Homo sapiens: one gene and its partners. The protein of the gene in region 1 interacts with the protein of each later gene in a pairwise test. Each region holds a gene or a part of one and is shown in the gene's direction. Other genes may lie near its edges.

Region 1 (3,747 bases):
CCACCTCCCAGCCCCCAGCACTGCCTGCTCCTTCCCCAGGCTGGAACCCTGCCAACTGTGACCTTTGGGAACTGAGTAGCATTGGGGATACCAGCCTTTTTTCCAGTCCTAAATAAGTCCTCCAAATGGAAATATATATTATTTTTCTCATCTGAAAATTGCTCTGGATTTGTATACTGGTCCCAAGGGTTGCCTCTGGGGAAGGGGGCTTGAATGCTTGGGGACAGGGAGAGCGTCTTACTTTTCACCAACCTGTTTGTTCCCTTTAAATTTTATCCCATGTGTGTATTGCCTTTCTTTCCCTTTCTTTCTTTCTCTTTCTTTCTTTCTTTTTCTTCCTTTCTTTTTCTTTCTTTCTCTTTCTCTCTCTCTCTCTTTCTCTCTTTCTCTCTCTCTCTCTTTCTCTCTTTCTTTCTTTCTTTCTGATGGAGTCTTGCTCTGTTGCCCAGGCTGGAGTGCAGTGGCGCGATCTTGGCTCACTGCAACCTCCGCCTCCTGGGTTCAAACGATTCTTCTGCCTCAGCCTCCCGGGTGGCTGGGACTACAGGTGCGCACCACCACGCCCAGCTAATTTTTTTTATTTTTAATAAAGATGAGATTTCACCATGTTGGTCAGGGTGGTCTGGAACTCCTGACCTCAGGTGGTCCACCCACCTCTGCCACCCAAAGTGTTGGGATTACAGGCATGAGCCACCACGCCGTACCGTTTCTTTCTTTTTTTTTTTTTTTGAGATGGAGTTTCTGTCTGTCACCCAGGCTGGAGTGCGGTGTTGTGATCTCGGCTCACTGCAACCTCCACCTCCCGGTTCAAGCGATTCTCCTGCCAAGTAGCTGGGATTACAGGTGCCTGCCACCATGCCTGGTTACTTTTTGTATTTTGGTAGAGATGAGATTTCACCAGTTGGCCAGGCTGGTCTTGAACTCCTGGCCTCAAGGGATCTGCCTGCCTTGGCTTCCCAAAGTGTTGGGATTACAGGCATGAGCCATCACGCCTGGCTGTATTGACTTTTCAGATACTACAACCTACATTTTAAGTTAAAACCTGCTTGCAAACAAATACAAATGTATAAAGCCAAGAATGGAAATTGTATATCAGCCCACCCTAGAGGTGACGTTAGTTAAGATCTATGTCCTCTCAAAAGTTTTTATTCATAAATAGGTATATACATGTGTGTATTACATTATGTATCTTTTACAAGTATGGGACCTTTCTGTACATAGAGCTTTACTATTATAACCTGCCTTTTGAATTTTTAACAGTTTATCATGGCTATTTTTCATGTCATTACCACCTCATTTTTAGCAACAACGAAGTATCCCATTGGATGGAACTCTGTCTTGTGTCTTAGCATTGCACAGAGCTCCCAACATAGCACTGGCATAGCTTGCATTCCAGCAAGCATCTATTGAGTGTCTACTGCATGGAAAATTCCAGAAGTTTCAAATCTAGTTGGGGCTTAGATGGGTCCTCACATACCTGTGTTCTCTCTGTGTTCTGGATAAGGGCTAAAGCAGGTTCAGACCAGAGTGTGTGTGTCTGTTTGTGGTGTGTGGGCGTGGGAGAGGGTTGTAACCAGGGCACCCTTTCTGCTTCTGCCCAGTAAAGACCCATCAGCCTGTGCTTGGGGCAGAGAGGTGTGGCCCTGTCTTCCGGGGACACCAGGCCCTGAGCCCAGGTGCTGTGCTCCCCCTGCAGGCTGCGTCCAGTTCCTGCAATATTATTACCAGAGGGGCTGCCTCTACCGGCTGCGGGCCCTGGGGGAGAGGAACCACCTGGATCTCACAGTGGGTGAGTAGCTGGGCCTGGGTTGGAGCCGGGGCAGGTACTGGACCTGCCAGCTCCCCACACCGGGAGTGCAGCCCTGCGAGCACCTCCCATACAGCGGAGCCAGGCCGCTGCCCTTTATCCGAAGCGCCTTCCAGAATTCATCCTGGATTCTGTTTCAGCTGCCAAGTGCCAGGCCAGCTGCATACCAGGCCCCGAGGGCAGGGCCTCTGTCTCAGCCTCTGGAAGTGTCTATTTTTTTGTGTGTGTTCTAGAATACACACACACAAATTAGCCATTTGTGTGTAACATGTCTACATACCAACACGTATAAGTATATAAATGCATGTACACGGGGGAGACATGCCTCACTCTGAAGCCATAGGAGTGCCAGCCAGAAAAGTGAGGAGACACCTCATTGAGAATTTCAGGGGAAACTGTTTTTAATACAACTCTGCTATCTTTTTTTTTTTTTTTTTTTTTTTTGAGACGGAGTCTCACTCTTGCCCAGGCTGCATTGCAGTGGCACGATCTCTATTCACTGCAACCTCCGCCTCCCGGGTTCAAGTGATTCTCCCGCCTCAGCCTCCTGAGTAGCTGGGATTACAGGCATGTGCCACCACGCCCGGCTAATTTTTGTATTTTTAGTAGAAATGGGGTTTCACCTTGTTGGCCAGGCTGGTCTCAAACTGCTGGCCTCAAGTGATCTGCCCACCTTGGCCTCCCAACGTGCTGGGATTATAGGCGTGGGCCACTGCACCTGGCCAACTCTGCTGTCTTTTGACATAGTCATTTCCATCAAATTACTCTCCTAAGTAGGTCCTCCTGTCTCAAGACTCGATAGAACTAATGCATGTGAAAATTCATTATAAAATGCAAAACCCTGTGCAGATTAAAGAAATTAGTAACAACATAGCGCCCAGTGTCTGTGTGTTGTCACCTGGCTCTTGGTGGCTTGAAGAGAGAGAGCAGTCAGGCCAGGTGACAGGGTTGCTATTGTCATAGTGAATGCCCACCCAGCTATGACAGGTGAGGGCTGACCCCCCGCATGTGTGACTGTCCCTGGCTCATCTTAGGGTGACTGGTGTGGCTGGGGGTGGGCGTCTGGTGGAGCTGTGGGGGCAGCGGACCCCCTCAGCGGGTCCTTTTTCTTCCCTCCTCTCCACAGAAGGGTTCCAGTCCTGGATGTGGCGGGGCCTCACCTTTCTCCTGCCCTTCCTCTTCTGTGGCCATGTGAGTCCCCCTGGAGTTTGTGGGTATCTCCTGTCTGGGCTGACCCCCAGGAACAGAAGGTCTTCAGGCCTTGCCCTCCTTCTCCATCCGTCCCCATGCTGGGGCCCACAGCATCCTGGGGCCGGGGCAGCCTCTGGGCCCAGGGATGCCAAGGCAGGAGCCAGAACTGACCTAGCTCTGCCCTGGCCTCGGGTGCCTGCATTTCATTTTGGGGGTGTCTGTCAGTGTTGTGGGTAGTTGATACCCAAAGTTGGGTGAGGGGCCTGGCCATCACCCTGGCTTTCTACGTGGCCGGCCAGGGGAGTCTGGTGGGTGAGCAGCGCCTGCCTTCCTCTCCAGTTCTGGCAGCTCTACAATGCCGTCACGCTGTTTGAGCTCTCCAGCCACGAGGAATGCAGAGAATGGCAGGTATGGGGGGTGGGGGCATGCTCGGGGGAGGTTCCCGGGAGGGCTGGGGTGGCAGGGATGGGGTGTATGTGTGGCATGCTGGGGTGCGGATTCCTGGGGAGGGCTGGGATGGCAGATGTGGGGGTGGGGTGTGTGCGTGTGTGTGGTGTGCTGTGGGGAGGTTCCTGGGGCGGGCTGGGCTGGCAGGTGTGGGGTGTTGTGGGGGGCCTGCTTGGCGGGAGGCTTCTGGAAGGGCTAGGGGTGGAGCCTCTCCCAATCTGTGGATCCCAAGGAGGTTCGCCCCATCGAGCCCTTCCCAGGCCCTGCCCAAGCCTGAGGCCTCACCCTTCCCCCAGGTCTCC
Region 2 (3,747 bases), on another chromosome or scaffold:
GGAACATGTCCTTCTCCTTTTCCTCCTTCCTGTTCCCTGGGAGGTGAACTTGGTAGCTGGAGGTGAAGCAGCTGGAACTTGGATATGAGCGTCTTGTTGATGATAATAGTGCAACAAGATAAAAGCAGCCCGAGCTGGCCTACATTTACATGAGAAGGAAATAAGACTCCATTTTGTTTAAGCTATTCTCTTGCATATATATATACACATATATATCAGCTAAGTGTAGCCATGTGACTAACTTGTGGCCAATGGGATGTCAGTATGAGTGGTAAGAGCAGTATCTTGTATATATATATGTGTATATATACACACACACATATATATACATATATGTATGCAAGAATATAAAATATACATGTGTGTGTGTATATATATACACACATATATATGTCCCTTGCAGCCAAGTCTAATTCTAACTAATACAAACTAACTCTAAAAAATGAATATATATTCACCAGGGGATAGGCTATTTCAAGCAGAGGGAAGCCTGTATAAAGGCTCAGGGAATGCCGTGGTTTTATGTGGCAGCAGATGAGACTGGAAATGAGTCAGGATGAGCCACAGTGGAGGATGAATTAAATGGGCAGGAGTGTGGTAGAAAGACCTGTTGGAGGCTATGAATGCAATCAAGGTGACAGACAACTGGTGCAATGATGGTAGTGGAAATGGAGGAGAGGGGATTGATTCAAGATGCATTTAGGACCAAGAATCGGGAGCTTGTGAACGTGTGTATGAGTACTGTAGACGGAGTGGGTGTGTCATCAGAGAAGATCTGAGCATTTGGGCTTGCTCTCCTCAGAGGCCCTGCGAGTGGAGTTCAGCTTTTCCTCATGGGGCAAATCTCACTTTCGCTCCAGTTCCTGGGGCTCAGAGTCCCTGGCCCAGATGCCTCTTGCCATCTCATCTTCACCCTGCCTGGCTTCCCTTGCTTGTTCCAGGATTGTTTCATAAAGAGGGATGTGGTTGGTCTTTAACCCTATGAATGCTGGCTGAGGATGCCTGCGGAACCTGTAGTGAAGCTTTCAGGGGCTGCTCGGGTTCTGGCTGGTAGGTGAACACTGTCCATCTTGCCGGCTGGGACACAGTGACTCTGGGTAGTTGTGTAAGAGAGGGGCCCTTGGCAGACAAACAGGTTCTTCTCTGTTGGTGGGCCAGCCAGCAGGTCAGTGGGAAGGTTAAAGGTCATGGGGTTTGGGAGAAACTGGGTGAGGAGTTCAGCCCCATCCCCCGTAAAGCTCCTGGGAAGCACTTCTCTACTGGGGCAGCCCCTGATACCAGGGCACTCATTAACCCTCTGGGTGCCAGGGAAAGGGCAGGAGGTGAGTGCTGGGAGGCAGCTGAGGTCAACTTCTTTTGAACTTCCACGTGGTATTTACTCAGAGCAATTGGTGCCAGAGGCTCAGGGCCCTGGAGTATAAAGCAGAATGTCTGCTCTCTGTGCCCAGACGTGAGCAGGTGAGCAGCTGGGGCAGAGGGATGGGGGTCACAGTCCTAAGGGAGGGCATTGCAGGTGGCCTCAGGGGAGAGCCTGGGGTGGCCCCTAAGACGTCCTCTTGGAACATTTTGGCAGAGTTGCCTCTTCGCCCTCATTATGGCTCAGTTTTTCCACCATGAAATGGGAGGGAGGGAGACAGGTGGGCAGGGGAGAGGTGGTAGAAGTGGCCTAGAGAACTGTTCCTGGGGTCTGGGACCTTTGCGAAGGGGTTAGAGCACCACGCTCCCTGCTATGTGACTGAGGTAGCAAGAGCACGCCCTCTTCCCATGTCTGAGGAAGACACCCTAGCCTCCTTGACTCACCTAGGTCAGTCCTCTTGAGCCCCAACAGCTCTGTGCTCCCCAGCCCAAGGAAGGGGTAACAGGATTTCGGGCAGTTGCCCCTGCAGAGGCCCCCTGGGCAAGTCCCCTGCGCCATGTCCCTTCGTCTCCTTCTTCCCCTAACCAGGCCTCCCTCCACCTGTCTTCTCAGAGCAGGTAATGGCAAGCATGGCTGCCGTGCTCACCTGGGCTCTGGCTCTTCTTTCAGGTGGGTCTCCGACCCTGACTTCAACGTGGGGGTGTGGGTGGAGGCTGGCCAGAGGGCCCTGTCCACCCTGGGGGAGGAGAGCCCAGGCCCTGATTACCTAGTCCCTCTCCACAGCGTTTTCGGCCACCCAGGCACGGAAAGGCTTCTGGGACTACTTCAGCCAGACCAGCGGGGACAAAGGCAGGGTGGAGCAGATCCATCAGCAGAAGATGGCTCGCGAGCCCGCGTGAGTGCCCAGGGGAAGGGGTGTAGGCGAAGGGAGGAGACAGCTGGGCCATGCCATGATGACCTGCCTCTGCTGCCTCAACCTCTGTGGCCGCTGCTGGGACAGAGGAAAGGAGCGGTGCTAGCTCTGTCTGCAGATCCCGGCCATCCTGGGCTCTTTAGCGCCCTCTGCCTGCAGCCCCCGCCTTGACAACTCCGTAGCTGTTGCCCCCTTGCTCACTGAGGCGCGGGACCTGGGATCAATCGGGAGGACGCCCGCTGCAGTCCCCAGAATCAAAGGATGATGTGGCGCATCTATGTTTCTTTGGAGAGTGTTGTAGGTCTGGATTTGTATGGGCAATGTGTTTGTGCTTCGTGCGTGAGTTGTTACTGGCCAGGGCTAGGACAAGAGCCCTCGACCCTGGGGCCAACGCCCTGCGTCCTTGGTTCCCCCAGAGGATCAGTGCGCGATGACTTGGGGACAAAGGAGATGATGGAGGCTAGCAGTCTGACGGCCTGGATATCTGTCCCCTTCTCCAGGACCCTGAAAGACAGCCTTGAGCAAGACCTCAACAATATGAACAAGTTCCTGGAAAAGCTGAGGCCTCTGAGTGGGAGCGAGGCTCCTCGGCTCCCACAGGACCCGGTGGGCATGCGGCGGCAGCTGCAGGAGGAGTTGGAGGAGGTGAAGGCTCGCCTCCAGCCCTACATGGCAGAGGCGCACGAGCTGGTGGGCTGGAATTTGGAGGGCTTGCGGCAGCAACTGAAGCCCTACACGATGGATCTGATGGAGCAGGTGGCCCTGCGCGTGCAGGAGCTGCAGGAGCAGTTGCGCGTGGTGGGGGAAGACACCAAGGCCCAGTTGCTGGGGGGCGTGGACGAGGCTTGGGCTTTGCTGCAGGGACTGCAGAGCCGCGTGGTGCACCACACCGGCCGCTTCAAAGAGCTCTTCCACCCATACGCCGAGAGCCTGGTGAGCGGCATCGGGCGCCACGTGCAGGAGCTGCACCGCAGTGTGGCTCCGCACGCCCCCGCCAGCCCCGCGCGCCTCAGTCGCTGCGTGCAGGTGCTCTCCCGGAAGCTCACGCTCAAGGCCAAGGCCCTGCACGCACGCATCCAGCAGAACCTGGACCAGCTGCGCGAAGAGCTCAGCAGAGCCTTTGCAGGCACTGGGACTGAGGAAGGGGCCGGCCCGGACCCCCAGATGCTCTCCGAGGAGGTGCGCCAGCGACTTCAGGCTTTCCGCCAGGACACCTACCTGCAGATAGCTGCCTTCACTCGCGCCATCGACCAGGAGACTGAGGAGGTCCAGCAGCAGCTGGCGCCACCTCCACCAGGCCACAGTGCCTTCGCCCCAGAGTTTCAACAAACAGACAGTGGCAAGGTTCTGAGCAAGCTGCAGGCCCGTCTGGATGACCTGTGGGAAGACATCACTCACAGCCTTCATGACCAGGGCCACAGCCATCTGGGGGACCCCTGAGGATCTACCTGCCCAGGCCCATTCCCAGCTCCTTGTC
Region 3 (3,747 bases), on another chromosome or scaffold:
AGCCTGGGCGACAGAACAAGAACTTGTCTCAAAAAGGAATGTGGGTCCATATTACTAGATCTCTCTCTCTTTTTTTTTTAAAGGAAAAAATAGAAATCCAGATTTTGATATGGAATCTTAATTTATAAGTACAGGGAATTTTAGAAAATTCTGCATGATGTAGTACTGAGCTGGCCAAAGCAAACACTTCTCTTCCCAAGGAATCCGTTTGCAGCCTCTGCTTTACTGTGCAGGATATTTGCTGATCATGCCACTCTGGGGTCTCCCTGCAGTCCACAGGCCCTGCCAGCTTCCTGGAAACACCAGAAACAAGCTCTGGTGGCTGCTTGTAACTGCAAGCTGAGACTTTCTCTTTGGATTTCTCATCTTCCACATCCTGCTCTACTTGTTTGAAATCAAACTTACTTTATGCCTGAGAAAACAAAACAACACACTGGTCTTGTCTGCTGACCTCCCCAGTCTGCATGGGGTGGTAGCGCCTTCTGAGGGCTGCAGACTCGGCGCTCCTTTTGTGTCCATTGCTGGCTCAAGCTCTGCATCCTTCCTGACTGTGTTGTTCTCATAGCTCCCTTCATTCCTGCTCTTACTGCCATTTCCACAGGCAGGCCCTCACAGATGCCCTTCGTGGCTGTTCATTAACCTCTGAGTGGTCATGGGTTACAAGCGTTCCCAGGAGGTAGTGCCTGTCCTCTCTAGGTGAGGCTCAGCTATAGGAGCAGCTGGCCCAGGCCCTGGTATAGAGATCCTGATGCCTCTCACGTTATCACCAGAGCAGGAGGAGGGAGATTATGCTATTGTAGACGCTTAGGAATCTGGAGCTGCCTCTGTGTCCATCTGTCCCTGTCTCACTGTAAGACCTCAAGCAAGTCAGCAATCCTGTCTGGGTCTCCATTTCTCAATCTGTGCAATGAGGAGATTGATTAGATGAGGGGTGGCAAATAGGGTTCACTGCCACCTCCAGGCTATTGGAAGTGACTGCCTAAGGGCTGGGTCAGGAAAGATTTAGTGAGTAACCATGGCTTATTGGGAATGGGTGCTATCATTGATCAGTAATGTCTGTCTGGGCCCCAGGAGAGGGGAGGGCAGGCACATGTGAATGTAGTCACTGTCTCTGGGCTGGCAGGTCCTGGGCCTGGTCTCCTTGCCCTTCCTGGAGCATGACTTCTGCTCTGCGTTCCTTTGGCAGTCCTGGTGGAACCGAATGTCCAATCGGTTCCGAAAGCTCAAACTGATGCAGACGCTGCCCCGTGGGCTGTCCAGCAACCAGCCTTTGCCTTTCTCTGACGAGCCTGAGCCAGCTCTGGACTCCACAATGAGGGCTGCCCCCCAGGACAAGACAAGCCGCTCTGCACTCCCTGATGCGGCCCCTGTGACCAAAGACAATGGTGAGAAAAGTCTGCATGTGCAGTAGAATTTTTGGAATGGTCTGAGCCTGTACCCTCTGCCCTTCATCCTACCTCCTGGGTTGCTGTCAGGGGTAAGATGATGTTGGAATGGGACACTGGAGCATAGAGGCTGGTCTGGTGGAAAAGATACTTAGGCAGGGACACAACCACCAAGAGTGTGATAGAATGAGAAGGTGCTGGCCAGTGGCAAGAGGCCCAGGTTCCTGTCCCACACTCCCTGCTGAGGGACGACAGGGAGTCGTCCTCTCTCTTGCCTTTGATAGGTGGTTTTCCCCACCTCTGAAATGTGATTGGTCTATGACACTGAAAGCATCTTGAAATAAAATGAGTTACTGGGAGGGTGTGAGTAGTGAGCTCCCCGTCACTCAAGGTATTCAACAGCTTGGATAACTTTGTCAGTTTGCTGAAGGAGATTCCCATACTGACTGGAACATAGATAAGATCCCTTCTAACAGTCAGATTCCCCATGACCAGATTAGCTACTTTGGCACCACTGTCTGAGACAGACTATTGAGCTGGGGGCACCACTGTCTGACTCAGTACGGCAGTGGTTTATGGAAAAGCTGAAAACATGCTCCAATATACCTTTTAAATGCCTTCCTTCTATTAAAATATCGAATACCAATTATTATTAAATATTTAAGCACCCAGGAGAGTTGGTTTTCCAGGTTGAAGCCTGCCCCAGTCACTCATCCTTATGCTGTGGACACGTGGAGGGGTCATTTCAGGAAATTTCCATTTGTCTCTCAGGTCCTGGGAGCACAAGAGGAGAAAAGGAAGACACGTTATTGACAACCATGGTGAGTGTGGGGCTTTTCTAAAAGCATTTTAGGTCTCCGGCAATCATCAGTTGATTGATTTACAAGGAGGGATGTAGGTGTTTGTCTGTCTTTGTAGTGGTCACAGATAGGGTTGGTGATGAGAATGTGTAACAGTGGGCTTAGCTCTGGCACTGAGGAGTCAGAACAGATGCCAGCTCTAAACTGTGGAGAGGGCTGTGCTGGTGCTCACCCGCTGGGTGTCAGCCCTGGCCCTGTTCTCATGGAGGCAGGGGATTGAGGGTAGGAATTGATGGGCAGCATGAGAAATGAAGACTCACCATTTGGGCTGTGGAGAACCAGGGTGAGAGGAGTCAAAGAGGAGGCTATGTTTCCAGCTGGGGAGGCCTCAGTTTCCTCATCTGTAACTTAGAGATGTATTAGGATTAGGGTCAACTGTGAGTAACGGAAAATCCCCAAGTAACAATGGTGTAAATAAGACAGCAGCCTACTTCATTCAAGTAAACAAAGTCCAGAACTAGTATATGGCTCATTGGAGTTAGGGACTTGAGTCCTTTCTGCCTGTTGGTCCCCCATGTGTAGTTTCTGTTTCTCAGGTCACCTCTTGGTTCAAGATGGCTGCCAGAGCTCTGGCCCATGACGGCCTCATTCCAGCCAGCAGGAGAGAGGAGGGGAGAAGAGGTAGCCATGGGCACATGCCAGCTGTCTTTAAGGAAGTTTCTTGGGGCCACGCACAGTAGCTCATGCCTGTAATCCCAGCACTTTGGGAGGCGGAGGCAGGTGAATCACGTGAGGTCAGGAGTTTGAGACCAGCCTGGCCAACATGGTGAAACCTCATCTCTACTAAAAATACAAAAATTAGCTGGGCATGGTGGTGGGCGCCTGTAATACCAGATACTCGGGAGGCTGAGGCAGGAGAATTGCTTGAACCCGGGAGGTGGAGGTTGCAGTGAACCAAGCTCGTGCCATTGCTCTCCAGCCTGGGCAACAGAGCAAGATTCTGTCTTTAAAAAAAAAAAAAAAAAGGGTTTTTGGCAACTACTCTGCTTAAATCACAGTGGGGAAGCTGGGAAATGAAGTCTTTGTTCCAAGTGGTCCTGTGCCCATCTAAATGAACATTAGGGGTGTCATTTCTAAGATGTGAAAAGTAGATACTGGGGGACAGTTTGCAGTCTCTGACTTCGGGGATCCCTCATGGTTATGGTTTTTAAACAAGATCACTCCCAGGAAGTTCTTAGCATAGTGTCTGGCCCAGAATAAGCTCCGTGGTGTGAACTTGGATGTGTTACCTCCCCTCTCTGGGTTTCACGTTTGTTTCCTCTGACATGAGAGCTTAGTGGTTAAAGTTGGACTTGAGTCCCTTTAGCGCTAAGACCCTAATACTAGCCAGCAGAGGGCAGTATTGCTGAGGACAAGGGAGCAGAGGGGGCTCCCAGAAAAGGCATCAGCAGTGTCAGGAACTTTAGAGCCCAGCGAGGGGTCCTGACCCAATCTGCCCACGGCTCCCTGCCACCCCAACAGGTGTAAATTGATGGCTCGAACACTGACTGTGGGGGCTTGTG

What was found.
Region 2: the proteins of TMEM120B (region 1) and APOA5 interact in binary tests that used the Homo sapiens proteins (3 or more experiments, as listed by UniProt).
Region 3: the proteins of TMEM120B (region 1) and ANKS6 interact in binary tests that used the Homo sapiens proteins (3 or more experiments, as listed by UniProt).

The regions. Positions count from the first base shown.
Region 1 is NC_000012.12:121,771,725-121,775,471, forward strand, and holds part of TMEM120B (transmembrane protein 120B), read left to right. Parts: intron 1-1,696; coding exon 1,697-1,789; intron 1,790-2,933; coding exon 2,934-2,998; intron 2,999-3,337; coding exon 3,338-3,406; intron 3,407-3,747. UniProt on the Homo sapiens protein: Necessary for efficient adipogenesis. Does not show ion channel activity.
Region 2 is NC_000011.10:116,790,091-116,793,837, reverse strand, and holds the start of APOA5 (apolipoprotein A-V precursor), read left to right. Parts: upstream 1-1,958; 5' UTR 1,959-1,977; coding exon 1,978-2,026; intron 2,027-2,140; coding exon 2,141-2,252; intron 2,253-2,770; coding exon 2,771-3,710; 3' UTR 3,711-3,747. UniProt on the Homo sapiens protein: Minor apolipoprotein mainly associated with HDL and to a lesser extent with VLDL. May also be associated with chylomicrons.
Region 3 is NC_000009.12:98,775,864-98,779,610, reverse strand, and holds part of ANKS6 (ankyrin repeat and SAM domain-containing protein 6), read left to right. Parts: intron 1-1,186; coding exon 1,187-1,385; intron 1,386-2,156; coding exon 2,157-2,206; intron 2,207-3,747.